Linked DNA regions of Homo sapiens: region 2 is linked to region 1. Evidence: fine-mapped expression QTL. A gene starts in region 1. The other region holds a variant in brackets. All regions are shown on one strand. Distances are between the middles of the regions.

Region 1 (16,101 bases):
TGGTGGAGATTGGTGCTTTCAAACCAGTGCCACATGATGAGAAAGAAGACATAGAAGAGGCAGTGCCAGAAAAATTGACATTAGACAATCTGGCAGAAGGGTTCCAGTTATTCAAGACTGCTTTTGACTTCTTGGACAAAAAGAATGGCATGGCTTCTATGATACAGGCACTGAAACTTCTTTGATAAAGGCACTGAAACCAAAGCAGTGGAAGAAAGGTGTTACCATATAGAAACATTCTAAGAGAAATGAAAAGGAGCAAAAAGTCAGACAGAAATTACAATGTATTTTCATAAAGTTTCACTGAGTGTCTGACTCTCCTTCCTCCCTTTTTCTCCTCCATCTCTTCTGCCTCTGTTGCCTCTGGGACAGGAAGACCAACCCCTTCTCTTCCTCCTTCTCCTCAGCTTGTTCAATGTGAAAATGAAGAAGATGAAGACTTTCATGATGACCCACTTCCACGTAATGTAAATATATTTTCTCTTCCTTCTTACTTTCTTAATAACATTTTCTTTTCTCTAGCTTACTTTATTGTAAGAATACAACATATATACAAAATATGTGTTAATTGACTGTTTATGTTATTGGTAGTGCTTCCAGTCAACATAGGTTATTAGCAATTATACTTTGGGGGAGTCAAAAGTTATACATGGATTTTCCATTACACAGGGTATTGGCACCTCCTAAGCCCCACATTATTCAAGGGTCAACTGTAGGGTAACATCCCAGATCCTGACAAAAGCTGACAGAGGAACTCTAACAAGTTGATTATTTTTATCATAAATGGTTACCAGGGAAACAGAAAACTGTAAAGATCATGTTTGTATAATGCAATTTTAAAAATCCATGAGCAGCCTAGCATTTTAGAGCCTTGCTTGCAATCTTGGGTGCCTCCTTTTCTTTCTTTCTTTTTTTTTTTTTTTTCCCAAATAGAACTTTTATTACTTTTCTAATCACCTCTTTCTTGCCAAACGCTTTTGGAGCAGGTGCTTTCTGGGCTGGAGCTTTTTGACCCTTCTGAGCTTTTGGAGGAGGCGCTGCCTTCTGGCCTGTGGCTTTCTGGGCAGGAAGCTTCTAAGCTGGAGCCTTCTTGCCTGCAGCGGTCATCTTTTTGCTAGAACTTTAGCAGCAGCTGCAGCAGCAGTAGCACGCTTCGCAGCAGGTGCTTTTTTGGGAGAAGCTTTTGGAGAGCTGCCTTTTGAAGCTTCTTAACTTCATTCTTGATTATTCTGTTCCTCATTGCCTTCATAACTTTAAAATGATCAAAATCTGTCATCTTGGCTTTCCTTTCTCTGGCTTCAATCTTCTTGGCCCATCGTGTGGCTGCCCATTTTGTATTGATGTTTGCCTTCTGCCAGGCTTGTCTGACATACTTCTGGTGGGCTCTGTGTGGAAACTTGAGGTTGAAATCAGTGAGCTGCATGCACTTGAAAGGCATGGTCTGTCTCCTCACTTGAGTGCAAGGTCCATCAACCAAAGCCCTGTTTTGATCAATAACATCTACAGTTGCAACCAATTTTCTGGCACGAGGTCCAGAGGGGATGTAGCCCACACGGCCAACCTCCACGAAGCGCCTGAACACCATGTTGGTGGCGTTTGGCAAGAAGGAAGAAGGCCAGGTGCATTCTTTTATAAAATATTAGTTATTGACCAGGCGTGGTGGCTCACGCATGTAATCCCAGCACTTTGGGAGGCCCAGGTGGGTGGATCGCTTGAGGTCAGGAGTTTGAGACTAGCTTGACCAACATAGTGAAACCTCATCTCTACTAAAAATACAAAAATTAGCCGGGTGTCATGGCAGGCACCTGTAATTCCAGTTGCTCGGGAGGCTGAGGAGGAGAATCACTTGAACCTGGGAGGTGCAGGTTGCAGTCAGCCAAAATCGCACCACTGCACTCCAGCCTGGGCAACAGAGCAAGACCCTACACACCAGCCTGGGTGACAGAGTAAGACCATTTCTCATAAATAAATAAATAAATAAATAAAAATATTAGTTATCACTGTAACCCTGACTTCTATGCTCTTCAGAGAATTACTTTATGCTTGTTAAAAACAGAATCTCCTTTAGTGACCCAGACACATATGATTAATCTTGATTTTAAAGCCAGATTATTTTTTTTTTGAGATGGAGTCTTGCTGTGTTGCCCAGGCTGGAGTGCAGTGGCGTGATCTTAGCTAACTGCAGCCTCTGCCTCCCAGGTTCAGGCAGTTCTCCTGCCTCAGCCTCCCGAGTAGCTGGGACTACAGGTGTGTGCTGCCATGCCTGGCTAATTTTTGTATTTTTAGTAGAGACGGGGTTTCACCATGTTGGCCAGAATGGTCTTGATCTCCTGACCTCATGATCCACCTGCCTCAGCCTCCCAAAGTTCTGGGATTACAGATGTGAGCCACTGTGCCCAGTCTAAAGCCAGATTATTTTTATAAAATTTTAGTGAGCAAGTACCCAGCTGACATGATTGAAAATGTAGATTCGTGTTTAGAGAATCACAGAATCACAAAATCACAAAAGCTGGAATGAGGTGGCTCAATGACAACTCACTCAGAAAATATGCTTTGAGAACCTGTGGCAGGCAGGGTGCCAAAAGCTGGATGGTCAGACACAATCTTACCAGCAAAGATTGACTCTTAAATATAGGGAACCATTCACTTAACTCACTGGTAGTGTTGTTTGATAAAGTTCTTAATGTTATTTTACACCATGTTAAGAAGCTAAATGAACTCTCTTCCAAGCCCTCACTTGAGGAAACAGGGGTGGACAGGAAAGTGACTAACTCCCTGCAGTCTCATGGTTAATTTCAAATATTTGAATGCTGTACAGTATCTAGCTCACGATATAGTCACAAAACTAAACTTTTAAATGAGCAAAGAATGGAATGAATTCAATCTAGGCTGAGCCAGAACAAGAACCCAGGTTTCTTCTTCTTCAAACCAATGCTTGTCACGTTGTTGGTAGATCAGAGTTTTCTGAACCAATCATATACCTACATCATAATTTTTGCCACATTAAATTAACCATTTAATTAAAATCAGTTTTGAACTTAGCTTTATTCTAAGCAACATGTTAACATCTGTGAATTGAGAATTTCTTGTATTATTCGTATTTATTATAATAAAATAAACATGTAATTATTTTTAAAAATTCATCTTGTACAACCAGAGGTATAAATACCAATTCTGGGGGAAATGCTAATTTGAAAATACTATCTAGAGAAAAATAAGGACTGTAAACCAAAAAGTATCTCAGACAGGTCTCATTCAATTTAGAAGTTGATTTTGCCAAGGTTAAGGACATACCTGGAAGAAAAGAACACAGAATCACAGAAACAGTCTCTGGTCTGTTCCTTTATCCAAGGATGACTTTGAGAGCTTCAGTATTTAAAGGGGAAAAGTGGGTTGGAGAGGTAAGAGCGAGGGTATAGTAATCTAAGTTGCAGGAGAAAAGGCGCAGGTAGGGGAATGGTGAATGATGCATTCATCTTGTGTGCAGCAAATCAGCACTTTACATGAAATAGGGTGAACATAGAGTAGCTACCTATGGAGATATTTAACCTTTTATCTGTAGCTATCTGCTTAGGAACAGAAGAAAAGGCAGCTTCTTGCATGACTCAGCTTTCAGCTTATTTTTTTCCTTCTGGCAGAGTGAACTGGAGTCTCACGTTTTTATTCTCCTTTCACAGCACCGAGACTGCACAGAATCATTCCTAATTATTTCCATTTTTATGATAAAGTCCAAAGCTTGATTCCATAAAGACCTTGAAATCCTTTGGAATTCTTGCTTGAAAAAACTCTAAAAGTACATTGGTAATTTCTTACATTCCCTCTACCTATTGAACAAATAAATGAAAATGACTCATCAAATTTATTTACTTTTGGTTATTATCAGAAATTATAATCTTGAGAAAGTATACATGAACACCTTAATTTACCAAATAGCTATATGGTATACTGTTGAGTATAGTATACTAGGCTGTAGTATACAATTACGTCTAGTTTTGAAATCAAGTTTTAACAAATAGGTTATATTCTTTACTCACCAAATTCAGAACAGCATTCATTCTCCAATGAATTCAATAACCTTTCAAGTGAAAAAAATGAGTAAAAAAGAAAATGTGAGTTCTTATTTAGGAATGAGATGGAACATGTTCTGCAAATTAATGAGCTTAAAGCATCAGACAACACACCTGGTTATACTTGAAAGTTATCAAAAATGCTTCCATTTAGCATATTTCACCTTAAATATCCACAGTACGTTTAGAACCCTCTAATTAAGACAAAATAGCAGCTTGTATGTGCACAATGAGAGTGTGCCAGACTGGAACATCAAAAAGATATTGGAAGTTCTCTATTTCATTATTTATCATTTCTTCCCCCACATAATATATTGCCTTGTACAGTTTTCAATTAGGACTTCCCCCATTCTCTAGGAAAAAAAATGTAATTTTGTGCCTTTATTTAGATGAACTATATTATCAATATTCACATAGTCCAGGTCGCATGAATGTTCACCTTATAATCAAATATTTCTATGCAATCTCAGTGGTTTCTATTTGTACTTATAGCCTTTCCTTATTCAGAAGGGGGATTTTTTTTTTTTTTTTTTTTTTTTTTTTTTTTTTTTTTTAGATGGAGTTTCGCTCTTGTTGTCCAGGTTGGAGTGCAATGGCGCCATCTCAGCTCACTACAACCTCCACCTCCTGGGTTCAAGCAGTTCTCCTGCTTCAGCCTCCCAAGTCTGAAAGCTGAAAATAAGCTGAAAGCTGAGTCATGCAAGAGCTGCCTTTTTATGTTTACATTTTAGTTTAAAATTACTTTCTAATTTTTTTGTGTGTGACTTCCCCTGTGACCCATGGTTTGTTTAGAAGTACATAGTTTGATTTCCAACTATTTGGAGATTTACAAATATCTTTCTGTTACTGATTTCTAGTTTAATTTGTGGGTAGAGACAATAATTTTTACTGTTTCAATTATTTTAAATTTGCTGAGATTTGTTTGATGATACACAGTGGAGTCTATTTTGATGAATTTTCCAAGTGCATTGGAAAAGAAAGCATGTTCTTCAGTTATTGGGTGCAATGTTCTACAAATGTCCATTAGGTCAAGTTGGCTGATAGGATTGTTCAGGTCTTCTATATCAATAGTTCAGAAATTTGCCAGCCTTTTTTCAAAATCACCTTCGTAACTTTCAAAAATACTAATGCCTGTATCTCACTCCTTAAGACTGTAATTTATTCTGAGGTGTGGTCTGTTCACTAGAATAATTAAAAGATTCCCAGGTGATTCTAATATACTGAAAAGTTTGGGACCTGAGTTCTGTATACTTAAATTATCTGTATAGTTGTTTTACAAATTGCAGAGCAGGGAGTAATGAACTGTTTGAATTCAATTAATTTTTGATTCATTTCTATTTTGTAGCACTGTGGTTAGGATTTTGTGTCTTCTTGATGAATATGCCCCTTTATCTAATTGTTTTAATGTTATTTTACCTAATTATTAGTGAAGGTAAACATTTTTTAAAAACCTTTCTGGCCGTTCAGTTTTCCTCTTCTGTAAGTGGCCTACTTACGTTATTTGCATATATTTATCTTGAGTTGTCTTTTTCTTACTGATTTGTCTGAATTCTTTTTTTTTTTTTTGAGACGGAGTCTCACCCTGTCGCCCAGGCTGGAGTGCAGTGGCACCATGTCACTGCAAGCTCTGCCTCCTGGGTTCATGCCACTCTCCTGCCTCAGCCTCCCGAGTAGCTGGGACTACAGGCGCCCGCCACCACGCCCAGCTAATTTTTTGTATTTTTAGTAGAGACGGGGTTTCACCGTGTTAGCCAGGATGGTCTCAATCTCCTGACCTCGTGATCCACCCGCCTCGACCTCCCAAAGTGCTGGGATTACAGCCGTGAGCCACCGCGCCTGGCCTGAATTCTTTATATTTTGAGAGTTTTACTATATTCTGCCAACCTGTGGCTTGTTTTTTAACTTGATTAGAGATGGCTTCTCTTCTGTTTGTAAAACTTCCAAATTTTAAAATAATCAATATTTTACATCTTTCCTTAATGAATCGTGCTGTTTCTTCCCTACGGCGATATACAGACATACGCTTTTCTTCTAAAAGTTTAGAGTTTTGTTTGTCACATTTTGGATCATTATTTCATTTGGAATTTAGTTTTATTTCTGTCGTGGTATCAGGATTGAATTTCTTATTTTTATATAAATAGCCAATTTAACTAGAACCACCATAACTTGTGTTTTCTATATCCCACGAACAGTTACTATACTAATTTACACTCCCAACAGTAATGAATAATAGTTTTTTCCCCACAACCTTAGAAACAGTTATTCCTCACCAGACATCTTTATTGTATACCAACTTCCAGGTACCCTTTTTTTCCTAATTTTCTTTTTGTCTATTCTTGTGTCAATACCACTTTTTTAAAAGTTGCTTTAAAATAGAATTACCATATGATTCAGCACAAATTAACACACACTTCTGGGTGTATATCCAAAAGAACTGAAAAGAGGGTCTCAAAGAGACATTTGCACACCCATGTCCATAGCAGTATTATTCACAATAGCCAAAAGGAGGAAGCAACCTAAGCGTCCACTGATAGATGAATAAACAAAATGTGGCATAATACACATAATAAATGATATATAGAACTATTCAGCCTTAAAAAGGAAGTTCTGCAATATGCTATAACATGGATGAACTCTGAGGCATTATGCTAAATGAAATAAGCCAGTCATAAAAGGGCAAATTCTGTATTATTCCACTTAGGTGAGGTACCTAGAGTAGTCAAACTGATAAACACAAAGTAAGATGATTACTGCCAGAGGATGAGGGGAATAGGAAATGGAGAGTTGCTCTTTAATAGGTATACAGTTTTAGTTTGGCAAGATGAAAAGAGAGATTGGTTCTGGAGATTGGTTGGAGAACAATGTGGAATGTATCTTATACTACTGAAGTTAAAAATGGTTAAGATGGTAAATTTTATTCTATGTATATTTCACTACAATTAAAAATATTTAAAAATACTGTTCTAGCAAAAACAAAAGGTTGCTTTTAATAGTTTCTCTTGATCTTTGGTGTCCTGCAATTTCACCGTTGCATAGAATTCTTATATTAATCCTGCTCAAGAATAAGTACTTCTTGAATCTGAAAATTCAAATATTCCACAATCTTGGAAAATTCTTAGTTATTACTCTTTGAATACTGCCTGCATCCATTCTCTCTAGTCTCTCTTTTTTGGCACTCCTATTAGATTTATGTTGGATTTTTTTTCATTTATTTAGCTCCTACATTGCATTCTAGTAAATTTCCTCAAACTGAATATTGCAGTCGCAGCCAAATGCATAGTTCTCAAAACACTGAATAGAAGATATTTTTATATAGCTCTTAAAATGATTAAGGCGATGTGTCAGCAAACTGTGCCAGAAGTAAAAAGTCAAGAAACAGGGAGACATAAGGCTTGTCTCTACAGCTTAGGAGGCTGTGCCAAAGCCAAAATAATAATGTATTGCTGTGGATGTCTACCTTGTACTCAACGAATATTAAAGCAGGATGCCGCTTTGTGTCAAGTACTAGATTACGATGAACGGTGTCACGAAGAACACTCCACTCTTGATACCGTATATGTGACCTTGAGCAAGAAATGTGTTCACGCTCAGGCTTCAGTTCCTTTCTGTGGGTTGCTGTGAGGCTCCACAGGGGTAAGGTAAGCACAAGTGCTATGCCTCAGTACCACTAGGGTATTTTCTCAATTCTAAAATATTAAATGGCCACGCACTACAGATTTAATAATAGTTTCGGAGGAGGGGCGTGAGGAGAGGAACATTCCACTAGCTCAACTATAAGCTTTCCGATTTCGGAAATAAGAAAAATATGAAAAAGTCTGCTTTTAGAATTAAGGAACGACGGTGTCGCGTTGACTTTCTCTGCTTGGTTCGCAAACGCTCTTTTCTCGAACTTGAATGACTTCTCTGTCGCTCATACCAACCTCTTTCCTGAATGACTTCTCTGTCGCTCATACCAGCCTCTTTCCTGATTTTCCACACTGGGATTCTCACTCCAATTCTCAGGTTTCCTGATAGACCTGATGAGCCGCTTCACCAGCGCCGCTTAGCTTCGCTTCTTTACTGTCATTGGCTGTCGCTGTTCCAGGTCCCGCCCACAGCGACCTCAATCCTGATTGGATGTCAGTGTCCTTTTGTTATGGCAAAGGTGGATCCCGGTGCTTTGAGATTGGACGACTGGGGTGAGGCGGGCAGCTAATGCGCAGGCGTGTATTCTCGAGTCAGGATTGGCGGGCGAGCGGCTGGGACGGGATGGGATTCTTCTCACGGCGCACGTTCTGTGGGCGGAGTGGGCGGAGCTGCCGGGGTCAGTTGGTCCAAGTGTCCCGGCCTGAGGTGTCGGCCGGATCCCTCCTTCTCCCGGCGCCTCAAGCGGAAGGTGAGGGCCGTCCCGGGCAGCGGAGGGCCTGGCCCCAGGCGACTAGAGCTGCATCCTCAGTACCTCCGAGGGCCTGGAGGGCGGGGCGGGCTGGACGCGGCCCTGCGCACCGGGGGCCCGGGAGGAGCGGTCTCGGGCCTGGGCATTTGGTGGGCGGCGGAGGCCTGGCTCCCGGCAGAACCCTTGCGCGACCTCTTTTTCTCCTGTTTTCGTTGTCAGGCCCAGGCGTTCTTTGGGAGAGGGACCTCTCGCGGTCCCTGACGCAGACATCGTGTAGCTTTCTCCCCGCAGCTCCTGGGTCGGGAGCCGCTTTGCAGCTCTCGGCTCTGGAATTGGACTGCGGGAGGGGCGTTTGGGTGGAATGGGACCTGGCACGCCTGGACCTTCCCGTGGCTGCTCTGCGAGAGCCTGAGAGATGGGAGGGGAGGCTGAGGTGGGGAGGGAGCCTAGAGAGCCGTAAAATAAGGATTGGACCATTTTTCCAGGCGGCGAAAGCGGCACCTGGGTTTGTTTCCTGATCGTCTTCTCCCCCAGAGTCCTGCTGAACAAGTTTTGGGAAGAAAGGTTTGGAAAGGAGAAAGAGGATACATTCCTGAAAGGCAGGGCTTCTGTTATACAGTGTGTCAACCTCACACTATTACGCAACAATAAGGACAGATGCCATTCCAGGTTGCCAACACGTTTTCTATGCCCGAGGACCCAAAGCTGTGCCCATGTATTCTGGTACCTCTATTCCTGATTAAAATCAGTGTAGCTAGCCATTCTCTGAGAGTATAGCTTCCATTTAAATCCTCATTTGGCCAAACAGTTCCTTGATCTTGTGGAATTTGAAACTGGATTTATTTAACCAGGACAAGTCAAAGCAGAACTTGAACAGATCTGAACAGACATTATATTGAAGTTCCGTAGCTTGAAGGGAATGGAGTTTATTTTCAGTTGCTTAGTAAAGATTCCAGAGGAGTTTGACATCAGTGGTAGCAAAATGTTTGGCAAACTTAAGATTAGGGCCATATTAAAGTTTTTTCCATTGCATAATGGAAAAAGCATGGACTGTGAAGTTAGACCTGGGTTCAAATTCTTGGTAGAGACATTGGCTGTGAAACCTCTGAAACAGCTTTTCTGAAAGATATATAGACTTTCTGAAATTTAGTGTCCATATCTGTAAATTGCAGTTTCCTTCTGTTGATTTGATGAAATAACATATGCAAAGCATTTAGCACATTAATGCACGAAGACATTATTTTAGCAGTCTTAGTAGTTCTCCAGTATGACAGATGGTGAAATCAATTTTAGATGCAGAAAAGTTGAGTGGCTGAAGATGGACGGGTATTAGGAAAAAGTCTCAAAATCTGCAGGCTCAGATGTGACAATAGTTGTGGTGGAATGGTGGAAAAAACACTGGGCATTTGTTGTAGTCTTGGCCCTGTTGCTAACTACTTCTGTGGTCTTCAGTAAGCCATTGTCATCTTTGGCCTTGATTTTGTAAAATGAAGCAGCTGGACCAGATGGTTTTCTTTAAATTCTTTCTGTTGCCCAAATTAGAGCTAAAAGGTAGAGAAGACGATAGCAGACATTTATTGAATACCTACTATGTACTAGGTACTGTTGCCAACACATTGTATCTATCCACTCATTCTCACAACAAACCCATGAGATACGTACGGTTATTATCCACATTTTACAAATGAGGAAACTTAAGGCCGAGGTGTTAACCTTGCCCAGGGTTCCAGAGCTTATAAATTGCAGAGCTAGGATTTGAATCCAGGTAATCTGAATCCATATTGTTAATCATTGTGCCAGGCTGCCTCTTGAGGAGAGTGATATTGTGGATATTGTACACTATTAGAGATAACTGTAAAATAAGATAGGGGCATATTTGGTAAGATGATCGTCTTTGGTCACAGGTGTGTGTGCATGGCAAAAATTATTTAATTAAATGAATCTTGTCCCAATGTTTGCCACATTTCCTGGTTTGTATTCTCTCTATGCGTTCTGCCTCCTGGACTTAAATAATCAAAAAAGTAATTCTAGATTCCCTTCCACTAACCAAGGCTAGATACCCGAATTTACTGTGTTTTTTGAGAAACCTTTGAAAGGTCTGACCTAGCCATACATCAGAGCTGAAGAATCTCAGCGAACCATGTCCATTTCTGGGGTAAGGTGGTTTAGGATAGGCAGAGCAGCCTCAGCGCCCCAAATTCATTTCAGTGTTCCCACGCTTGAGCAGACTTGGTCTTAATTTTCTCGTTTTTCATCAGATTTGCGTTTATATATAGGAGCAGAAGGAGTTGAAAGTGAACTCTTAAGAGCATATTTGACATGGAATTAGATTGATGTTATAGCAACTATAGGTAAAAAAGGATTTTATAGTTGAAAAATTTGAAAAGCTCAGTATTAAGTATCTGTTATGATGTAGTACTGTGTTAATGTAGACTTTGGGCAGTTTGGGGATCAATACTATTTTAAAAGAAAAAATCCATGGCTAAAATACTTTGACATAAAGAACTCAGCAAGTCTTTTGATCCCATATGTCAAACAAATCAGTTTATTGCCCTAAATCTACTGAAAGACTTTGAATATATATTAATACAATAGTAGCATTTTGAGATGGGTCTATTTGATCACATCACAATAAAATACAATTGCTTCTTGTTCTTTTGTCGTGGAAAGGCAGCAGGTAATGCTGTGGTCCACTGTACTAAAGAGTAATGCCCTTATGCGTAGGGCTGCCAGATACAGTGGGCGGTTTTTTCACTGTGCAACACTTGGGATGCAATCTTACGTAGACTGTGGTGTGAATTGTGCTCTCTCGCGTTGTATACCCTTATAGCACTGTTCTTGTGGCACTACTTTTGTGCTCCTGCCTCTACCCTAATCTTGAGTGTAAGAGTAATTTTTCCTTTAATAAGCCCTCTCCACCCTGTTTTTCTGCTTTTTATTTTCTTTCACTTTTTCAGATGAAGTCACACTGTTGCTAAACCATGCATAGGTTTTCTATTGTTTGAATTATATGTGGTCAGAATTTCAGAAACTGGCTTCTTTTTCTTTACCTCTTATATTGGTGAGTTTGGAATACTTGTGTTTTTGCAGACTTTTTGGTTTAATTTAAATATTAGTCTGAAACATAAGCAAAAGAAGACTACCCTATCACTGTATTATATCTGACTTCAAAATCAGCTGTGTCGATTTTCTGATTATCTGTTGCTTTGGCTTGTATATCTTATAACTCTTCTTAGCTATCATGAAAATTCGTTCTAGCTGTAGCCTTAAAATCATTGGATATGAGAAATTTGAAGCACTTTTAATTTATTATTTAGCAAAGACAGATGCCAAATTGCAGCTTACTCTTGCTGAGCACTCCCACGATCACTTTTGCTTTTGGCTGTTGCCTCTCTCATCTTACTCAGACCTCTTTTAGCTGGATCAGTGGTTGAAATGGTATGAAAAGAGAATGACTGTAGTACCTGGTTACAGGTGTGCTTCTCTGTCAGGGAAATGTCAAATCAAGTTTTCACTGACACTCTTCCTCTTCAATTATAGTTAAAGAGACATGTTGATTCAATGGAGAGGAATAGTTTTTGGAGTGTGGTCTTTAAATACTACAGTAGGCTGAATAACTTTTAAAAAAAGAATTGTTGGAAAAATTTTAGTAATCTGAAATGCAGAGAACCTGAGAATTAAATAATGTGAAAAAGAGGTCGGGCAGAGCAACTTTAAATGCGGTTTAGATAAGGGGACAGATGCTAGAAGACTTGGAGTAGGTTTATTCAGCATTATTAAATTAATTGTATACCATTTGTAGTTAATTATTTAATAATGTTATACAAGGGATATTTCATATTTTTTTCTAGACTAGTGAGTGCTATCTAACTTGAACTATAAACTTGAAGTTTATGTATATGTACACTGGGCATTTTAATTTGAAGTTCATGTTAGTATCTAAAGTGTAACAGGATTTATGTAGATGTACACTGGGCATTTTCAAATTTCATGTTAGTATCTGAAGTACAACAAGATTTGTATTAACAGCTGTGAGAGAATGTGTAATACACTGATATCTCTATTGTGATTCTAGTTCTAGTATGTAGATATCCTTATTTAATAGGTCTGCTTTCTACTGTTTAAGATACGGAGGCATAACAATGCCTTGGGCATAGAAGATATTCAGTAAATACTTGTTGAAAGAATAACACTGACAGGTCTAGGTTGCTTCAATGTAGTAGATTAGATTGGTTAACAAATCTGTTTTCAGTAATAATCTGGTGACATTATTTAATATATTTTGAACATATTGAATGAAATGATTGTTAGCAATGGAGCAGAACATGTTTTATAGAAATTTTTTGTTCTAATATTTAGAAGTCTTCATTGTAATAATAAAATGTTAGTATTTATTTACTTATTTACATCCTGATTAGTCTGTTTTGATTTAACCCTGACTAGGAGCTGATGAATGGACATTTTTTCATTTATTCCATATTAATATTTTAGATGGTCTAGTATTTATCTTTTGAATTTTATTTGTAAAAAATTAAACAGTATATGTAAAGCAATACTTTAATGAAGAAGAATATTTGAAACAATTTTATCTTCATCCATACCGTCATCCTTAATATCAGAGCATTTTTTCATTTTCATGTTTTTTATGCATATTTATATATATTTCACATAATTTACATCAGTGAATATACAATTTTATACACATTTTTTCATGTAGTATAGTCATAATTATTTTCAGTAGCCACTCCATTAGAAATTATAACTGTACTCAGGAGGCTGAGGAAAGAGGATTGCTTGGGTCCAGGAGTTTAATACAGACTGGGCAACTTGGCAAGACCCTCATTTCTAAATAAATAAATAAAAATATGTCTTCTTAAAAAGAAAATCACAACTGTAATTTACCAGACTTTGAGTGGGCAGTTATGTTGTTTCTGATTGACTTCATTGTAAATAAAATTGAAGTGATTTTTATGTATATAACTTTCTTTGCATTATTGTCCTTAGCCTAAATTTCCAAGGTAAAATACTCAGTTAAAAAAGATGTAAATGTTTTTATGAATCTTATTATCATACTGCTTTCCAAAAAGATTACATATTTAAAATTTGTGTCCAGTGTTTGTGTATTTGTTTTTCCATAACTCTTTGCTAGTATTGATCATTATCTCCTTTAAAAATAATAACTGTACGGTGGTATTTATGTATTTTTTGATTATCAAGAAGCTCAACATTTTCTCAAACTATTTATATCCTTTGCTTATTTACCCATTAGGCATTTATTTTATTCTTAGTAAAGCATATGAAAAGTCCTACTATGTCATAGTTAACAAAATCATCCTCCTTTGAAAAACAGGCTTATAGTTTATTGCTGTATGTGTCTATATTTCTGAATTTTTCTTATTGTAGACCATTCCTCAAGAATTTTGTATCCAAGGCCCAAAAGTTTGTTACCCAAGATGATGAATGCTGACATGGATGGTATGTTCTTCATTTTCTTTTTTGTATACTCCTGGTTTTGTGGATGCTTTTGCTTTATTAAGCAATGGAAAGGGCAGAGAAACCATGTTTAGAAGACTTTGATCTTGGCTAATTACTTATTTATATCTCATCTAGTGTTAGAAAGGACCAACCAAAGCAGCTTCCATTCCTTAGCTATGAGAGGTTGGCAAGTTGTTTTTATCTTCTTTACCTTGGTGGTATTATCTGCAATTTGGGGATACAAAATTTTATTTCACAGGGCTCTTGTATAAGTCAAGTAAGAATGAATATAAAACATTTTGCAGATTTTTAAGTGCTACCCTACACAAATGTACCTAATGCTAATTAATAGTAAATTTGAACCTTTATATTACAGCAGTTGATGCTGAAAATCAAGTGGAACTGGAGGAAAAAACAAGACTTATTAATCAAGTGTTGGAACTCCAACACACACTTGAAGGTTGGCTTGCATTTTGTAGTTTATTTGAATGACAGCCAATTAATTGAACTTGTAAAAATTTATATTGCTAAATTTTGTTTGTTAGGATGTATAATTTTTAAAAGAATGAACTTCAAAGTACACACATATATATATCTATCTTCCTGCTTTGGTAGTTTAAAGAACAGATACACTTCAGTCAAGTCAAATGTTGTTATTGTGCTTCCCTCTTTGAAGCCTAACATAATGCTGGCTAGTATGAGACCCCCTTTTAAGTCCCCATAATGTGTTACTAAGTCCGCTTTAATAAAGCTTATTTTAAAGTAAAAACAATGTATTAGCCTTGGAGATTAAAAAGGAATTCATCTGAATTTTTTCATTTTCTAAATCTTGCATAAAATTAATACACTGAAACATCTTTTGAGTTTTAATGAAATTAAGAGGTTGTGTTTTTGGTGCCACAGTGAGCAGATCATGTCACTCAGAACCTCCCACTGATTTACATTTTACAGAGTTAATAAAAGTCATCTGTGACTTCCCTATTAGCTTTCTTTTTCTTTTTCTTTTTTTTTTTTTTTTTTTTTGAGATGGAGTTCACTCTTGTTGCCCAGGTTGGAGTGCAATGGCGCAACCTCGGCTCCCTGCAACCTCTGCCTCCCAGGTTCAAGCGATTCTCCTGTCTCAGCCTCCCGAGTAGCTGGGATTACAGGCACCTGCTACCATGCCTAGCTAATTTTTTTGTATTTTTAGTAGAGATAGGGTTTCACTATGTTGGCCAGGCTGGTCTCAAACTCCTGACCTCATGATCCACCCGCCTCGGCCTCCCAAAGTGCTGGGATTACAGGTGCGAGCCACCGTGCCCAGCCGGAATTAACCTCTTATGTGATCATCAGGAACTGCATGTGTTCAATGTCTTGATAATGTTACAATACAAGATGATAAGTTGCTTGGAAACTGACTGCCTGTATTCAGTATATGAATTCAGTTGTGTTAACCTGATATATATCTTAAACATTTCTAGTAAAGATGTTATAGTTTTATGTTGATAAGACATGAACCAAAATTCACATTTTAAAAACAAAGTCTTTTTAAAAAATTACTCAACATTAATGCTATTTATGAAGAATAGCATTTAGTCTAATGTGAAATATCTTTTTAGGAATTTGTCTACTAATTTGTACTCAGTTTGTTTACCTTGCTGTCTCTAAAATCCGAATTCTTAAAATTTAAGGATTGTATTATTTCTTTTAAGAATGAATCCTAAGAATTTTGTAATATGGAATCATTGTCATTGTTTTATTGATAATGGGCATTTTTATTTTTTATATAGATCTCTCTGCAAGAGTAGATGCAGTTAAGGAAGAAAATCTGAAGCTAAAATCAGAAAACCAAGTTCTTGGACAATATATAGAAAATCTCATGTCAGCTTCTAGTGTTTTTCAAACAACTGACACAAAAAGCAAAAGAAAGTAAGGGATTGACACCCTTCTGTTTTATGGAATTGCTGCTGATCATTTTTTCTTTAAAACTTGGATAGATTCCAAAAGTTACAGTACCTTTGTGGCTTCATTGAATATTTATGAAGATAATGTCAGATGTAGACAAAAATAACACAATAACAGGAGACTTCCATAAGTTTGTGTATTATGTTAGTCTATGAAAACGTGCAAATGTATTGTAGAGACTTTATGATTAGAATTGCATATATTTATGAAACTTAAAGATGAATGTTTTATTGAATTTGT
Region 2 (16,101 bases), 57 kb after region 1:
GGGAATTTATTACTAGGCTCTTTATTGTATCCCATTGATATATATGTCTGTCTTTATGCCAGTCTCACACTGATTTGATTACTATAGCTTTGTAATAAGTTTTGAAACAGAGATGTGAGATTTCCAAACTTATTCTTTCCCAAGATTGTTCTGGCTATTTGGGGTCCCTTGAGATTCTATATGAATTTTACTATTCTTGCAAAAAGTGCTATTAGGATTATGACAGGGATTGCACTGAATCTGTAGATTACTTTGGGTTGTGTTTCCATCTTATTAAGTCTTCCAATCCCAATGAACACAATGTCTTTCCATTGATTAATATTTGTTTCTTAATTTCTTTCAGCAGCATTTCATAATTTTTCATGTACAAGTATTTTACTTCCTTGATTTATTCCTAAGTATTTTATTCTTTTTTATGTTGTTATAAATGGAATTGTTTTCTTAATTTCCTGTTCATTGTTAGTATACAGAAGTGCAACTAATTTTTGTGTGCTAGTTTTTTTACCCTGCAACTTTAGTGAATTCATTTGTTTGTTTTTTGAGATGGGATCTCACTCTGTTACCCAGGCTGGAGTGCAGTGGCACCATCATGGCCCATTGCAGCCTTGAACTCCTGGACTCAGGTGATCCTCCACTTCAGCCTCTCGAGTAGCTGGGACTACAGGCAAGCATCACCATGCCCAGCTAATGTTCTGTATTTTTCTGTAGAGATGGTTTTTGCCATGTTGCGCAGGCTGGTCTTAAACTCCTAGACTCAACTGATCTGGCTACCTTGGCCTCCAAAATTGCTGGGACTACAGGCATGAGCCACCATGCCTGGCCTTCATTTATTATTTCTAACAGACTTTTGTATTGTGTTCGTGAAATCTTTAGGGTTTTGTACATACATATAAGATCATGTTATCTGCTGAGATAATTTTACTTCTTCCTTTTCAATTTGAATGTCTTTTTTCTTTCTTTTTCTTCCCTAATTTCTCTGGCTCGGGAGAAGTGGAAAAAGCAGGCATCCTTGTCTTATTCTAGATCTTAAAGGAAAAGCTTTCAGTCTTTCACCATTTAGTCTGATGTTAACTGTGGGCTTTTCATATATGACCTTTACTATGTTGAGGTGGTTTCCTTCTATTCCTAGTGTACTGAGTGTTTTTTATTATGAAAGAGTGTTGAATCATGTCAAATGCTTTTTCTGCATGAATAAAGATGATCATGTGTTCTCCCCTCCCTACATTGTAAATGTGGCATGGTACACTGATTTTCTTATGTTGAATCATCCTTGAATTTTAGGAATAAATCCAACATGGTCATAGTATATAACTCTTTTAATATGCAGCTGAATTTTGTTGTCAAGTATTTTGTTAAGAATTTCTGCATCAATAATCATCTGGAATATTGCTCTGTAGTTTTCTTGTAGTGTCTTTGGCTTTGATAACAGGGTTATGCTGGCTTCATAGAATGAATCTGGAAGTGTTTACTCCTCTTCAATATTTCGGAAGAATTTGAGGAGGACTGGTGTTAATTCTTTCAATGTTTGGTAGAACTCACCAGTGAAGCCACCTAGTCCTGGGCTTTTATCTGCTGGGAAGTTTTTGTTTACTGATTCAATCTCCTTACCAGTTACAGGTCTGTTCAGATTTTCTACTTCTTCATGATTAATCTTGATAGAGTGTGTGTTTCTAAGAATGTATCCATTTAATCTAGGTTATCCAATTTGTTGCCATACAATCCTTCAGCGTATTCTCTTATAATCCCTCTTATTTCTGTAGAATCAGATGTAATGTCCTTTCATTACCAATTTTAGTTATTTGAGTCTTCTCTCATTTTTCTTAATCTAACTAAAGGTTTGTTAATTTTTTTGTTGACCTTTTCGAAGAATTAACTCTTGATTTCACTTGTTTTCTCTCTTGTTTTTCTATTTTCTATTTTGTTTCTCTCTGCTCTAATCTTTATTATTTCCCTCTTTCTTCTAACTTTTGGGTTTCATTTGCTCTTTTTCTAGTTCCTCAAGGTGTAAGTTAGGTTGTTAACTTGAGATCTTTTGTTTTTCATGTAAGTGCTTAAAGCTATAAATTTCCCTTTTAACACTGCTTTCACTGTATCCCATAAGTTTTGGTATCTTTTGTTCTCCTTTTCATTTGTCTCAAGATGTTTTTCTAACTTTTCTTGAGACTTATTTGGCTCATTGTTCAAGAGTGTGCTGTTTAATTTCCACATATTTGTGAATTTTTCTTGTTTTCCTTCTACTATTGATTTCTAGTTCCTTTCCTTTGTGTTCAGAAAACTTACTTTGTATGATTTCAATCTTTTAAAATTCATTAAGACTTGTTTTGTGGTCTAATATGGTCTATCCTGGAGAATGTTCTATGTGCAGTTAAGAAAAATGTGTGTTCTGCTATTGTTGGGTACAGTGTTGTCCATATGTTTATTATGTTTAGTTGGCTTGTGGTGTTATCTATTTCTTTATTGATCTGTATGGTTGTTTAAGTTATATAATTTTAGTACAGCAAGAATTTGTTTATATGGTATAGGGTAGAACATTTAGTGCTAATGTCACCCTCTTCCCTCCTTATAAATTAAAAGGTAGCATGCCCAGGGTTCCAAGCTTCTTATGTATTCCTCACTCCATGAGGCTTGCTGAGATCACTAAATATCAGTTGTGCCTTCATAAGAAGGGAGGCACTGAAGAACTACATCCTTCTGCACCAACACGTATCTTTGATCTCATGTATGTTCTCTGCACTGCTTCTGTGGTAGTTCAATAACAAATTGAAGCACAAGTAACTTTATCCATGAATGAGATACCATTCTTCCCAATCTTTGAAATCTAGATCAAGTAGTCTGGTCTACTTTAAATAATTACACCAATATCTCCTAAAAACCCTACTGGATCTCCACTACCACCCCCAAATTACAAATTATAAAGTGCAGCTCATGTACTGGTATTGAAGTAATGCTCACTGTCACATCAAAGGTAAGTAAGGCACACAAAGAAAAGACAATCACAGGATATGCAATATGTGTTGTATAGTGTGGGAGAAGTTGCTGGCTGATCACAAGGGTAATTTCCTTGGCACTAGATGTGACCATTACCTGGTTCCAGCCAACAGAATGTAAATAGAAGACCTGTATGCCATTGTCAGCCCTTGCCCATAAAAACTTCCTATAATTATGAATTATAATTCTTTATGATCTTTCCCCTTCTGGTTTGATGCAAGCAATTTTGAAGGTCATGGTTGAAAACGGCAAAATTCCAAGGTAGGAAGTTGCAGAATCCCTGAATCATTACTTGGAGGAGAGTCATTTTATTAGTCAGAGTTCATCAGAGAAGCAGAATCAATAGGGTGTGTGTGTGTGTGTGTGTGTGTGTGTGTGTGTGTGTGTACATACAGGCATACCTCATTTTACTGCACGTTGATTTATTGCATTTTTCACAAATTGAAGGTTTCTGGCAACACTGCATTGAACAAGTCTACAGCTGCCATTTTTCCAACACTATAGTCACTTTATGTTTCTGTGACACATTTTTGTAATTCCTTTTTTTTTTTTTTTTTTTTTTTTGAGATGGAGTCTTGCTCTGTCACCCAGGCTGGAGTGCAGTGGCACAATCTCGGCTCACTGCAACCTCTGCCTCCTTGGTTCAAGCGATTCTCCTGTCTCAGCCTCCCGAGTAGCTGGGATTATAGGCGCGCGCCACTATGCCCGGCTAATTTTTGTATTTTTAGTAGAGACGGGGTTTCACCATATTGGTCAGGCTGGTCTCCAACTCCTAACCTCAGGTGATCCGCCCGCCTCGGCCTCCCAAAGTGCTGGGATTACAAGCGTGAGCCACCGCGCCGGGCCTTCTTTCACTCTCAACACACCTATTTAACACACTTTTTGTACATGCTATTTCTTATAACTGCGATGCCTTTCTGCTGTTATTCAGTTTTAATGGCTGACTGAGGATCCGACCAACACTGGTATATTCCAGAAGTGGTGTTTGACAATCACCTATTACTTAAAGTTTTAGTTGTCATGTGGCTTCAGGAATGCAATGTAGAATGATATAATAAAAAGTACACCCAACATGGCACAATCGCACCAAGTTTCTAGTTTTATTATTAAAAAGACAAGTGATAAAAACTGCTGTGGGCCTGTTTTCTCATTTGTGACGTGAACTAGACAATCCAAAGATTCTTTAAAGTTCATAATTCTAGTTTTCTATTTAAAAACACCAGTATTTATTAGGTACTTAAAAAGTACTACAGCTAACTTACAACACTTCAATTTCTAGACAAATGCATCAACATACTTACATCATTTACACACAATAATTAACCTTATCAACTAGCTAAGACAGAGAGTACAGAATATCTTGTTCTGAGGATTTGGAGATGAGATCTAAATGTTACTGGAAGATCAAACCAATAAGACGTGAAGGCAAAACTCCAAACTGAAAACAGGTCAAACTTACAATGACCCAAAGGAGGGCTACCTCGAGTGATGTCGACATTTGTAAAACAAGCAAAATCATCAGATGAGATCGGGATTTTGCCTGCTTTTAAGCAACAAAAAGTTTATACGTTAATGAACTCTTTTCTAATTTGAGACTTCTTCCTGTGGCCACGTTATTTACCTTTTCTCTCCCAGTCCTGAGCTTTGGTTGCCATTTGCTTTTAACTCCCAAGCAAACACCTCCTCTTTGTTGCTTGGGCAGATGCTATAAATAAAATCAGCGAAAGTGTCTGATTGATGGTAAACAGGCCTGGGGCGATAATGAGTCTAGTAATTAGGGCCTCTCTGGATTCAACCCAGCCCTTTCGCCCGCCCCCCGGCGGCGCACAATGGGCTCTGCGCGGGTATCGAGGGAGCGGCCAACAGTCCCTGGCCCCACCGCCGTGAAGTGGGGTCCCTTCGCTTCCACATAGGTGGAGACTGAGACAGCCGAGCCTATTTTGATCTCGTTTGGGTTTCTGTAAGGAGCAGTCAGCAGAGTGAGCAGCGCCCAGACGCGCCCCGGGCCCCCTCTACAACCATTGGGAGAGCGCCCCGGGCTCAAGCGTGGAACGGGGCTGCAATGGCAACCGCTGGAATAACGGCCTCGGCTCCCGGTGGCTCCTCAAGCCCGCAGGGGAGGCCGGCCGGGCTAGGCACCTAGCTGTCCCCGTGCTCGTCCGCCCCAGCCCGGGCGCAGCAGGTGGATGCGGCGGTGCTGAAGACACAAAGGGTCCCAGGTGGCACCACCTCCTGCGTCCACCCACGGGGCCGCCAGAGCCCAGTCAAGACCCTAGCTCGCTGCAGCCCCATCGCCAGACTCAACATCCACCCTCACTTGGCCCCGACCGGTTCAGCCCTCTGGCGGCAAAGTAACGGGGTGCCTGGGGGAAGCAGCAACGACTCCGCTTCCTCACCCCAATCTGCGCGCAAAGGGCAGCGGGACAGCGGGAACGCGGCCTGCTGCTCACGCACCTCTCTTGCGGCCTGTTTTCGGCAGTGACAGCTCAGATGTCCAAGTCGTTGCCACTTGGTCCCCGCGTCTCTTCAGACCAGTCCCGCCGGCGGCCGCGCAGCAGCGACTACTAACCGCGCGTGCGCGTGCGGTGGCGGGCGGGAGGCGGTGGCGGCCCGAGGTGTGTGCTACGCGCTCCTGCTCCGAGGGGCTCAACCGCCTCCAGGGGGAGCCGCACATGGAGCCTGTGCCGCCGCCGGCCGGTTGTGGCCTGGACCCCGCTCCCGGGTTAGCCCAGGAGGAATTCCCCCTGCAAGTCCGAAGACTTTTCCTCCTCTGAGCTCCCGCCCTCTCTGCAGACCGTGCTACCTCCTGTTGCGCAATGATTGGGTCCTGAATTTTATGTAAATCATATTTATGAACAACGTCCAGTAATAAGTGCAGCAAGATTAGGGCTCTAGGTTTTCTCCAGAGTTCTAGATGTTAACAGATCTGCAGTCATGGTGATTAATAAGGAGCTTTCCTGTCTGGTGTGTGTATATGACAAATACAGATGCGTTAAGTGTTAATAAATACATTGTATATAAAACAATATGTTCTTTTTCTCTCGAACAACACTATTAATAAGAGCTGCTAACATTTATTGTGTTCATTGTGCTCTAAGGGGCTTACATTCATTGTTTAACCTTCGTGGCAACCCAGGTGATGAAACTGATGGCAACTTGCTCGAAGTTACACAACATGTAAACAGTGGAAACGGGATGTAAATCAGGCCTGTCTCTCTCAGAGCCTGTAGTTTCAAACACATTGAAATAAATCTTAGCATAAACGTAGTTTATGCTATGATTATGCAATCACAAGCTGCTTTGCCTTTTATATATTGGATCAATATTAATTTTACTACTTAATATTTTATAGTAAATCTTGACTTTGAATTTGGTATAACAATTTAATTTTATTGGAAGATTAATTAACAACATTTAATTGACTTGTGAGTCTAAGACCCTTGTTGAAGAGTTTCAATCTTAAGGGTTTGGTGGCATTCCGTGCACAACGTATCATTATTGGCTAGGGGTCAAGATCACTGAGTTTTTTCACATTGCTTCACTAATTAAGACCAGCATTTCTAAACTTTTGACTTTGTCATCTCTGGGAGAGTGTTTGGATAGTGTTAAAATTTACTGGTTAAAAAGACATTTTGTTTGAGATACTTTGTAACAATATTATACCCTTTATTTCTTTCTTCCGTCCTTCTGACTTCTATTATTCAACATACTTCTGTGGCCCATAACAAATACACTTGAACTGCTAGAGAGGGATTTTTTAAAGGATCCATTCAAAGTTTGCAGTGAGGAAGCTGAAAACTAAAAATGTAAGAATAGTGAATTTTTGCAAGATTTAGTAGTATCTTCTTGGTCACATAGTACTCAAAACCTTGAGAACATTTTTTTACTCTTTGGCTGCTACATTCACTGCCTCCATAAATTAAACTCTAACTCCATAAAATCATCTAAAAGAGGTCCTCACCCCCTCCAGTCCCTGTGCCATTTCTCTAGTTTAGATTCTCACTACTTTAGAAACTGTTGTTCAGAGTTACCTAACTAGTTGCCCCCCTTCAGAGCCTCCCACCTACACTTCGTAGTTTAATCCTCAGCTCATTCAATAGTTTCCAATGACCCTTCATTACCCACAGCATGAAATCTAATCTCTAACCTTGAAATTTAAGGCCTTAACATATCTCCAAAATTATTTGCCACTTATTGAAAGGATGATTGAATATAATATTTATAATTTGTTTAATAGGCAACTTTTCATCAGAATAATACAATGTGATAATGTCAGAGGAGAAAGAATAATCTGCAAATAAGACAAGGGGTATGGCTTTTGAGAGTGATGTAGTGTTTAATAATACAAGCGGAGGAGTCCCAGAATGTAATGCTGAATGGTAGAGTCGTGAAGTGTTCTGACACATCAAAGTTGAAGAGAGATTTGGGAAGAGACCAAGGCAATGTAATCAAGATTGGAGGGACTAGAGTAATCAGAAATCTAGAAAAACATAAAAAGCAGGAAAGGTGACCTGGCATGGTGGCTCATGCATGTAATCCCAGCTCTTTGAGAGGCTGAGGCAGGTAGATCACTTGAGCCGAGCTGCCTGAGACCAGCCTGGGAAACATGATGAAACCCCATCTCTACAAAAAAATACAAAAAATTTAACTGGGCATGGTGGTGCATGCCTGTAGTCCTAGCTACCTGGGAAGCTGAGGTGGGAGGAAGCTGAGGTGGGATGAGCCCAGGAGGCAGAGGTTGCAGTGAGCCCAGATAGTGCCACTGCACTCCAGCTTGGATGGCAGAGTGAGACATTGTGTCAAAAAAAAAAAAAAAAAAAAAAAAAAAAAAAAGCAGAAAGGTTCATGCTCCTTGATGGAACAGAGTGATGTCCTGTTGGAAGCCTGTTTTGTAATCAAAATCAGAGCTGTGTTTTATTAATGTTCTACTATGTGCAAGTTGCTATATGCAATTGACCCACAGGTATCATCCTTATTTTACTTATGAGGAAATAGACCCAGATCAGTTACATAACTTATTCACACAGATCTTAAGATGCAGAGTGAGGATTCAAAGCCTGTGCCCTTTCCACAACACCTTGCCACTTGAAAAATGCAGAATATAGGAAATGCCTCGATTATCAGGATTAAAGAGCTATGCAGAATGAAGTTTTAACTCAAATACAATGAGTGGACTCAGAACCTAGATAATTCAAATAATACTTTAAAAATGTTTGTATATTTTCATATGTTTAGGAATGTGCTTTTTAATGGTGCAGAAAATAGAGAAAAGGAAACAAAGTATTCCACAAGTATTTCCAGTGGGTTGACTTTTATTTTCAAGATGTATAATTATGTCTATGGCAGAAAATGATCTTTTCTTTCTTATATTTATACTTATTTTCTGAGGTTTTTTTCCTTATTACTTTAACAAAAATATCAAACAATAGTAAATAATAGTAATGACAATAGTCATCATTGTTTTTCCCAGAATTCGTCTGGTTAAACTATATAGTTGGCAGAATGAGCCCATGCTGAGTTTTTTTCTTGTGTCTCAAGATAACCCCCCTCAGAAACACTACCCGACTTTAGGATTTATAGAATGATATACAGCTATAGTTATCAAAGAGTTATCAAAGAGTATTAGTATCAAGGCAAACAAATCAATGGAACAGAATAGATTCTATATAGACTTACATGTGTATGTATTATGGCCTGGATATGGTTGGTTTGTCCCAACCAAAACTCATGTTGAAATTTGGTCCCCAGTGTGGCAGTGCTGGAAAGTGGGGCCTAAT[G/A]GGAGGTATTTGGGTCATGAAGGTCCTGTCCTCGTAGGTGGCTTGATGCCATTGCAGTAGTGAGTGAGTTCTTGCTCTGACGAGACTGGATTCATTCCCATGAGAATGGGTTGTTATAAAGCTGGGTGCCCCTCAGGTTTTCCCTCTTTGCATGCGTCTGCTTCCCCTTTGACCTTCTCTGCCATCTTTTGGCCTAGCACAAAAGCCTCACCACAAGCCAGAGCCATGTCCTTGAACTTCCCAGCTAGCCAGACTGTGAGTTAAATAAATCTCTTTTCTTTATAAATTACCCATTCCCAGGTGTTCTGTTATAGCAACACAAAACAGAATAAGACAGTGTGGGGAACTGGTTTTCAACATAGGTACACATGCAGTTGGTAGAGAAAGCCTAGTCTTTTCAACAAATTGTGGTGGTACAATTGAATATTCACATGTAATAAGTACATTTTTCAATCCATACCACACAGCATATATAAAAAAAGAGACTGGCTGCATTTTGCCCCGTCTTAGATATTTGTGGAACTTTGAACTTGAGGGAGATGATTTAGGATATATGGTGTAAAAAATTTCTAAGCAGCAAAGCACTCAAGAGGTGACTTGGGTGCTATTAGAGGCACTCCGTTTTAAAAGGGAAACAGAAAATAAAAGGTTTGAAAATTTGCAGCCTGACAATGTGATAGAAATGAAAATCTCCACTGCAGAAATTTTCATAAGTAACAAGAAGCCAAATGTTAATCCACACGACAATGGGAAAATGTCTCCACGGCATGTCAGAGGTCTTCATGTCAGCCACTCTCATCACAGGTCCAGAGACCTAGGAGGAAAAGACAGTTTTGTGGGCTGGGCCCAGGGCTCCTCTGCTCTGTGCAGCCTAGGGACTTGGTACTCTGTGTTCCAGCTGCTCCAGCCATGGCTAAAAGGGGTCAACGTACAGCTCAGGCTGCTGCTTCAGAGGGTGGAAGCCCCAAGCCTTGGCAGCTTCCAGGTGGTGAGCCTGTGGGTACCCAGAAGTTGAGAATTAAGGTTTAGGAACCTCTACCTAGATTTCATAGGATGTATGGAAACGCCTGGATGCCCAGGTGGAAGTTTGCTGCAGGGGCGGGGGTCTCATGGAGAAGCTCTGCTAGGGCAGTGCTGAAGGGAAATGTGGGGTCAGAGCCCCCCACACAGAGTCCTTGTGGGGCACCACCTAGTGGAACTGTCAGAAGAGGGCCACCATCCTCCAGACCCCAGAATGGTAGATCCACTGACAGCTTGCGCTGTGCACCAGGAAAAGCTGCAGACACTCAACACCAGCCTGTGAAAGCAACTGGGAGAGAGGCTATACTTTGCAAAGCCACAGGGGTGCAGCTGCCCAAGACCGTGGGAACCTACCTCTTGCATCAGCGTGACCTGGATGTGAGACATGGAGTCAAAGGAGAGCTTTAAGATTTGACTGCCCTGCTGGATTTCAGACTTGCATGGGGCTTGTAGCCCCTTTGTTTTGGCCAATTTCTCCCATTTGTAGTGGCTGTATTTACCCAATGCCTGTACTCCCATTGTATCTAGGAAGTAACTAACTTGCTTTTGATTTTACAGGCTCATAGGTGGAAGGGACTTGCCTTGTCTCAGATGAGACTTTGGACTGCAGACTTTTGAGTTAATGTTGAAATGAGTTAAGACTTTGAGGGACTATTGGAAAGGGATGATTGGTTTTGAAATGTGAGGACATCAGATTTTGGAGGGGACAGGGCAGAATGATATGGTTTGGCTGTGTCCCCACCTAAATCTCATCTTGAATTGTAACTCCCACAGTTCCCAAGTCTCATGGGAGGAACCTGGTGGGAGATAATTGAATCATGGGGGTGGGTCTTTCCCATGCTGTTCTTGTGATAGTGAATAACTCTCATGAGATCTGATGGTTTAAAAAAAACAGGAATTTTCCTGCACAAGCTCTCTTCTCTTGTCTGCCACCATGTGAGGTGTGACTTTAACCTTCTGCCATGATTTTGAGATCTCTCCAGCGATGTGGAACTGTAAGTCCATTAAACCTCTTTCTATTGTAAATTGCCCAGTCTTAGGTATGTCTTTATCAGCAGCATGAAAATGGACTAATAAATATATAAATCAGTGGGGCCATCTGGCTCTACATTTGGGGTGGAAAGATTTAGAGTTGGATTTTCTACCATTACACACACACACACACACACACACACACACTATTTTAATGGAAATAGAGACCTAAACTTTAAAAATTATAGAAGTTTTATAATATAATATATGGGACTATATGCTTGATGTGGGTAGGTAGGTTGTTTTAAACAATACGAAAAGTGAAAAAGTCATAAAAGAAATTATTAATATATTTGGCTATCTCAAAGTTGAAAATTTTGTATGTCAAAAGACAATACAAAATAAGTTTAAGACAAAAGACTTTCTGAGAAAAGTAATTTTAGCCTATGACAAACTATTAATATTTAGTTTAGGAGTTTAATTAGGTTCCTGTATGTGTTTTAAGAACCTCATATTTAAATGAAGAAGAAGAAGACAAATAGCTCATTAAAAAAATCAGGATTGGGAGGCCGAGGCGGGCAGATCACGAGATCAGGAGATCGAGACCATCTTGGCTAACATGGTGAAACTCCATCTCTACTAAAAATAGAAAAAAAAATTAGCTGGGCATGGTGGCGGGCGCCTGTAGTCCCAGCTACTCGGGAGGCTGAGGCAGGAGAATGGCGTGAACCTGGGATGCGGAGCTTGCGGTGAGCCGAGATTGTGCCACTGCACTCTAGCCTGGGCGACACAGCGAGACTCCATCTCAAATAAAAAATCAGGAAAGATATAAATATGTGAGAAAATTTAAACCCTACTTGTAATTTGAGAAAGGCAAACTAAGACTATAACAAAATACTGCTTTCACTAGACTGGCAACAATTTCAAAGCTCACTAATAGCAAAGGGCAAGACTTGGGAAAACTGCTGCTTTCAAACACTACTCTTGGGGATATATGTTGATATGGCTATTTCTGGTGGCAATTTGGCAGTATCTGTTAAAATAAAAAATATTCATACCTTTTGAGTCAGCAGTACCACTACTGATTATTTAAACTAGGAAAAAGACTCTATGCTCAAGTAGGCACCCAGAAGAATGTACATTGAAACACTGTTGTAACACTGAAAAAAATATTTAAATAGTAATGGATCAATTTCTGCATCAGAGGAGGAAATGCTAAATAAATTATGCTCTATTCATATTTTAGAATATTGTGTTGATGTTAAAAAGAAAGAATTAGATCCATGTTGGTGACACAGAAAAAATTAAGTAACAAATATTGAGTGAAAAATCAACTGGCATTTTAACCAAAGGCTTTTAAAAATCCAAAGCAATACCATATATTCTAATAAGTACATATGTATGTAAATGCATAGGAAAATATACAGTAGTATTCACGCCAAATTGAAATCAGAAATAATTTCTGGGAAAAGGACTGGGATTTTGGTTGGTTGTCAGGTAGAACTTTTGCCTGGTTGGTAATAGTTTTTTTTAATAACAAAGATGTATTTATGCATTAATTGTACAATTAAATAAATAACATTAAAAATTATCATAGTATAATACTGTTCTTTGTGTGAAATGAATTTCCTGTTTTTATTTTTCAGTAGTTTTTAATAGTTAGAAATGAATGTTGAATTCCAGTACATGCCTTTTCAACCCATGTTGAGATTATTAATACATAAATTTCCTGAATATGAAACAATCTTGCATTTGGGGAATAAAGACAACTTCAATGGTCTGAATGTTTATGTTGCTTCAAAATTCATATGTTGAAATCCTAACCCCCACAGTCTGGTATTAGGAGGCCGGGACTATAGGGGGTGATAAAGTCATAAGGGTAAGGCCCCAGGAACTCTCTGCCCCTGTCATCATGTGAAGACACAGTGAGAAGGTGCCATCTTTGAGGAGGCAATCCCTCACCAGACACCAAATCTACCAGCACCTTGATCTTGAACATCCCAGCCTCCAGAACTGTGAGAAATAAATTTCTGTAGTTTAGAAGCCACCTAGTCTACGCCATTTTGTTATAGCAGCCAAAAAGAATAAGACACTAACCTTTTCATAACTGATTATTCCATTATTTTGTTTCTCAGTTCTATTTATGAAGTTTCTTTAGCCTTTTTACATATGTATGCATAATTGAGATAGTCTATAATTTTTCTTGCCTGAATCTGATAACAGAATTAAGTTTATTTTATACAATGAATTAGGAAGTTTTAAGAATTCTCTCATGCCCTGGAATCATTTATATAGTATGAAATTTTATATTGTTTTTTGAGATTTTGAAAAGTTTATTATAACTTTATGGGCATTAATGTTTTGGTGGATTGGTTCATTGAATTTTCCTGAGTTATTATTCATTTACTCAGATTTTCCACTTTCTGCTATATAATTTTAAATATTTTTTCCAGAAAACCATTCATTCAATGAGATATTCAAAGTTACTGGACGCACGTTTGTACTAAGGGAAGGCTGTTTTCTTGAGGAAGGAGCTTACAGCATCAATAGTCATGTATATTATGATTCTTTCCCCAAATTTTCCCCAGAGCAACCAGGGTGACTATGCACTAGCTGAAGGGAAATATCCAGACCTTCTAGAGTTTTTAAAGTACTGTTTCTGAACTGACACTAATTCCTAAAGACTCCAAGCACCGTCATGTACTTATGTTCAGATTGTGAATTTATGGAGGTCACATGCTAGATGGAGTCTTGGCCTAAGTCCCTATGCCAAAGGAGTCCAGTGAAGTCACAGCCCCCTACCTGTAGTATTTCTCTAGTTCCAGAATATGTAATAGGGCTAAATATATGCAGTAACTAACAGAATCCCCCGTGTTTGTTCCCTGCTCCATGGAGTGAGGGCTATGACAAGATATCACCTCGTGAGAAACAAGTTGCTGTACCCTGGGCCACCCCCCAAAAAGAAAGAGACACAACACCTGGCAGGCCTACTCAGATTTGGGATATAACATACACCACATTTGGACAGATTGCTAGGACACATTTCCTGGGTATCTGTAAAACTTCCATATTTGAGTGGGGCCTGTAACTTGCCACAGGTTCAGACTACAGAAAGAGTGTCCCTGTACTTGGGCCTTATGACTCAGGAGATTCAGTGGCATTAGAAGTGTCAATGGCTGATAAAGACATGGTGAGGAATTTCTGTTAAGTTCTAATAAGAGGATCACAGAACATACCACTAGGATTTTGCAGTAAGAGATGCTCTCTTCTGCTGACAACAATTCTCCACTTGAAAAGCAACTCCTGGTGTACTACTGGATCTTCATAAACACTGAATGCCTGCCCATAAGACATGAAGTGACCTGAATTGAGGTAATCTGATTCACCAAGTCACAAAATTGGACAGATGTGATCATGTGTAGGAAGCATAACAAAACTGCATATGCTGATGGCTCAGATTCACACGGTTCCTTATTGTTTCTCTCTCACTCTGCATCTATGGCCTGATGAAGAGGCCTCTATGACCAGTTAACAATGAAGGAAAAAGTACCACCTGGTTTCTGGATGGATCTGCCCTGCTATATTTGTAGCAGTGAGAAGTGGACAGTTGCTACATTACAGCCCCACTCAGGGAAGTCCTAGAAAAGCAGGGGTGAGCTGAAATCATTCCAGTGGGCAGAATTTCTGGTTGTCCACTCATGTGGAAAGAAAGATAGCCTTAATATAGATCTTCATAATATGTGGACTAGCAGATAGGCTAGCTGACCCGGGATGTAGAAAGAACAAGAATGACATGCTGATCGCGAGGCAGGTTGTAAGAGAGGTTTGTGGATGGGTTTCTTGGAGTGGGCACAGAGTGTGAAGATATGTATGTTCCACATAAAGCCCCCCTACAGGTATCCACTGCAGAGGAGGTTCTCAAAATCCAGATGGATAAGAATATCCACGTCAGCCCCCTTTTCTGGCCAAAAATGCAAGCTCAAAGGCCCCATATACAAAGTGGTCATGGAGGCAGGTGTTGAGGCCATGCATGGATTTAATAAAATGGGCTTTAATTCATGAGGGTGATCTAGCTACCAGTGTAACTGAATTCTCAATCTGTCAACAGCAGAGGCCAGTGTGGAAGTCTTGCTGGAATTATCTTTTATGGGGATCAGGCAGATGTCTAGCAGTATTTTGAGGATCTGGAATGCTTTCATGATGGAAAAAGCAGCTATTTGTCCTCAGAGGAGAAATACACATTCTGGTTGTGGATTTGTCTATTCCCTTTCTGCCAGAGCTACCATTTATGAACTTACAGAATATCTCATCCATTGCCATGGTAGCCCACACAATACGGCTTCCAACAAGAAATACATATTATGAGAAGGAAGTGCAATAATGGTCTTACCCCCATGGATTCACTAGTCTGACTATGTACCACATCACCCAAAAGAAGTTGCCTTGTTAGAGTGATGGAATGGCTTTTGGAAGACTCAGTTGTAGCTCCTCGTGAAAATAACATCTGGGAGATTGGGGTGCTGATCTACTGGATTTACTATGTCTTAATCTGGTGACCAATGTAGGAAACAAGGGTGAGGGGGAAGTGGCCACTCTCATTACAACAAATCCTCTCCTGAACACAATTTTTGTTCTTATCCTCAAGACTTTCAGTTCAATGGGTTTGAATGTCCCAGTGCCCCAGGGAGGAATGCTTTGAGGAGGGAACAATCATAGTTCCATTAAATTAGAATGTGTGGCTGTTTCTTAACAGTCTGTACTGCTTAACCAGTAGGCAGGAAAGGTTAGTATACAGTGTGATTGATCTTGATTACCAAGGAGAAAATAGGTTTCTGTTACAAAATGGGGGCAATAGAGAACTGTATCTAAAACCTAGCACTTCTTAGTAAGTCCTTACTCAACTGTATTGATCAATGGAAGATACATCCACCAAGGACCCAAATTCTACAGGAAGAAAAGTTGAGTCACACCAATTTTCATACAACCCCTTCCATTCAACTATCAGGAGAGGGTAAGAGGACCATAAAAGAATTATCAAAGAAGGAAGTTTGAAAATCAACCCAGGACTCATCACAAACCTCAGAATGGGTCTCGTGATCTGTTTCCTTTGGCTTCCTTTTTTTCCTTTGCTACTTATGTGGAAGCACAGGTGGTAGCTAAGATTTTAGGTTTCAGGTAAGAGTATAACTGACTTGGCATCACCTCATAATGATATGTTACTGGGGATTTTGTGTGAATACATTTTTCACCAAGGCAAGATATATGAACAAGAATATATGCTAACAAAGGGGGTGAAATATGCTAAATATTTTCTGTTTGCCCCACTAGATGTAGTCTCTATCCT

What was found.
Region 2: its variant is fine-mapped to the expression of SCOC in whole blood (INTERVAL, PIP above 0.99).

Annotation. Positions count from the first base shown.
Region 1 is chr4:140,365,276-140,381,376 of GRCh38, forward strand. SCOC (short coiled-coil protein) reads left to right here and starts at 8,371. Exons shown (of 4, transcript NM_001153484.2): 1 at 8,371-8,442; 2 at 13,846-13,917; 3 at 14,294-14,377; 4 at 15,687-16,101. The coding sequence starts at 13,896. The coding sequence ends at 15,829. SCOC-AS1 (SCOC antisense RNA 1) reads right to left here and starts at 8,117. Exons shown (of 5, transcript NR_033939.1): 1 at 7,988-8,117; 2 at 4,035-4,075. It also overlaps the pseudogene RPL14P3. RefSeq lists enhancers at 8,054-8,555, 8,251-8,300 and a silencer at 8,461-8,660.
Region 2 is chr4:140,422,095-140,438,195 of GRCh38, forward strand. It overlaps CLGN (calmegin), which reads right to left and starts at 5,554. Exons shown (of 15, transcript NM_004362.3): 1 at 5,443-5,554. RefSeq lists an enhancer at 4,711-4,760. The variant G/A (reference allele first, on the strand shown) is at 8,766.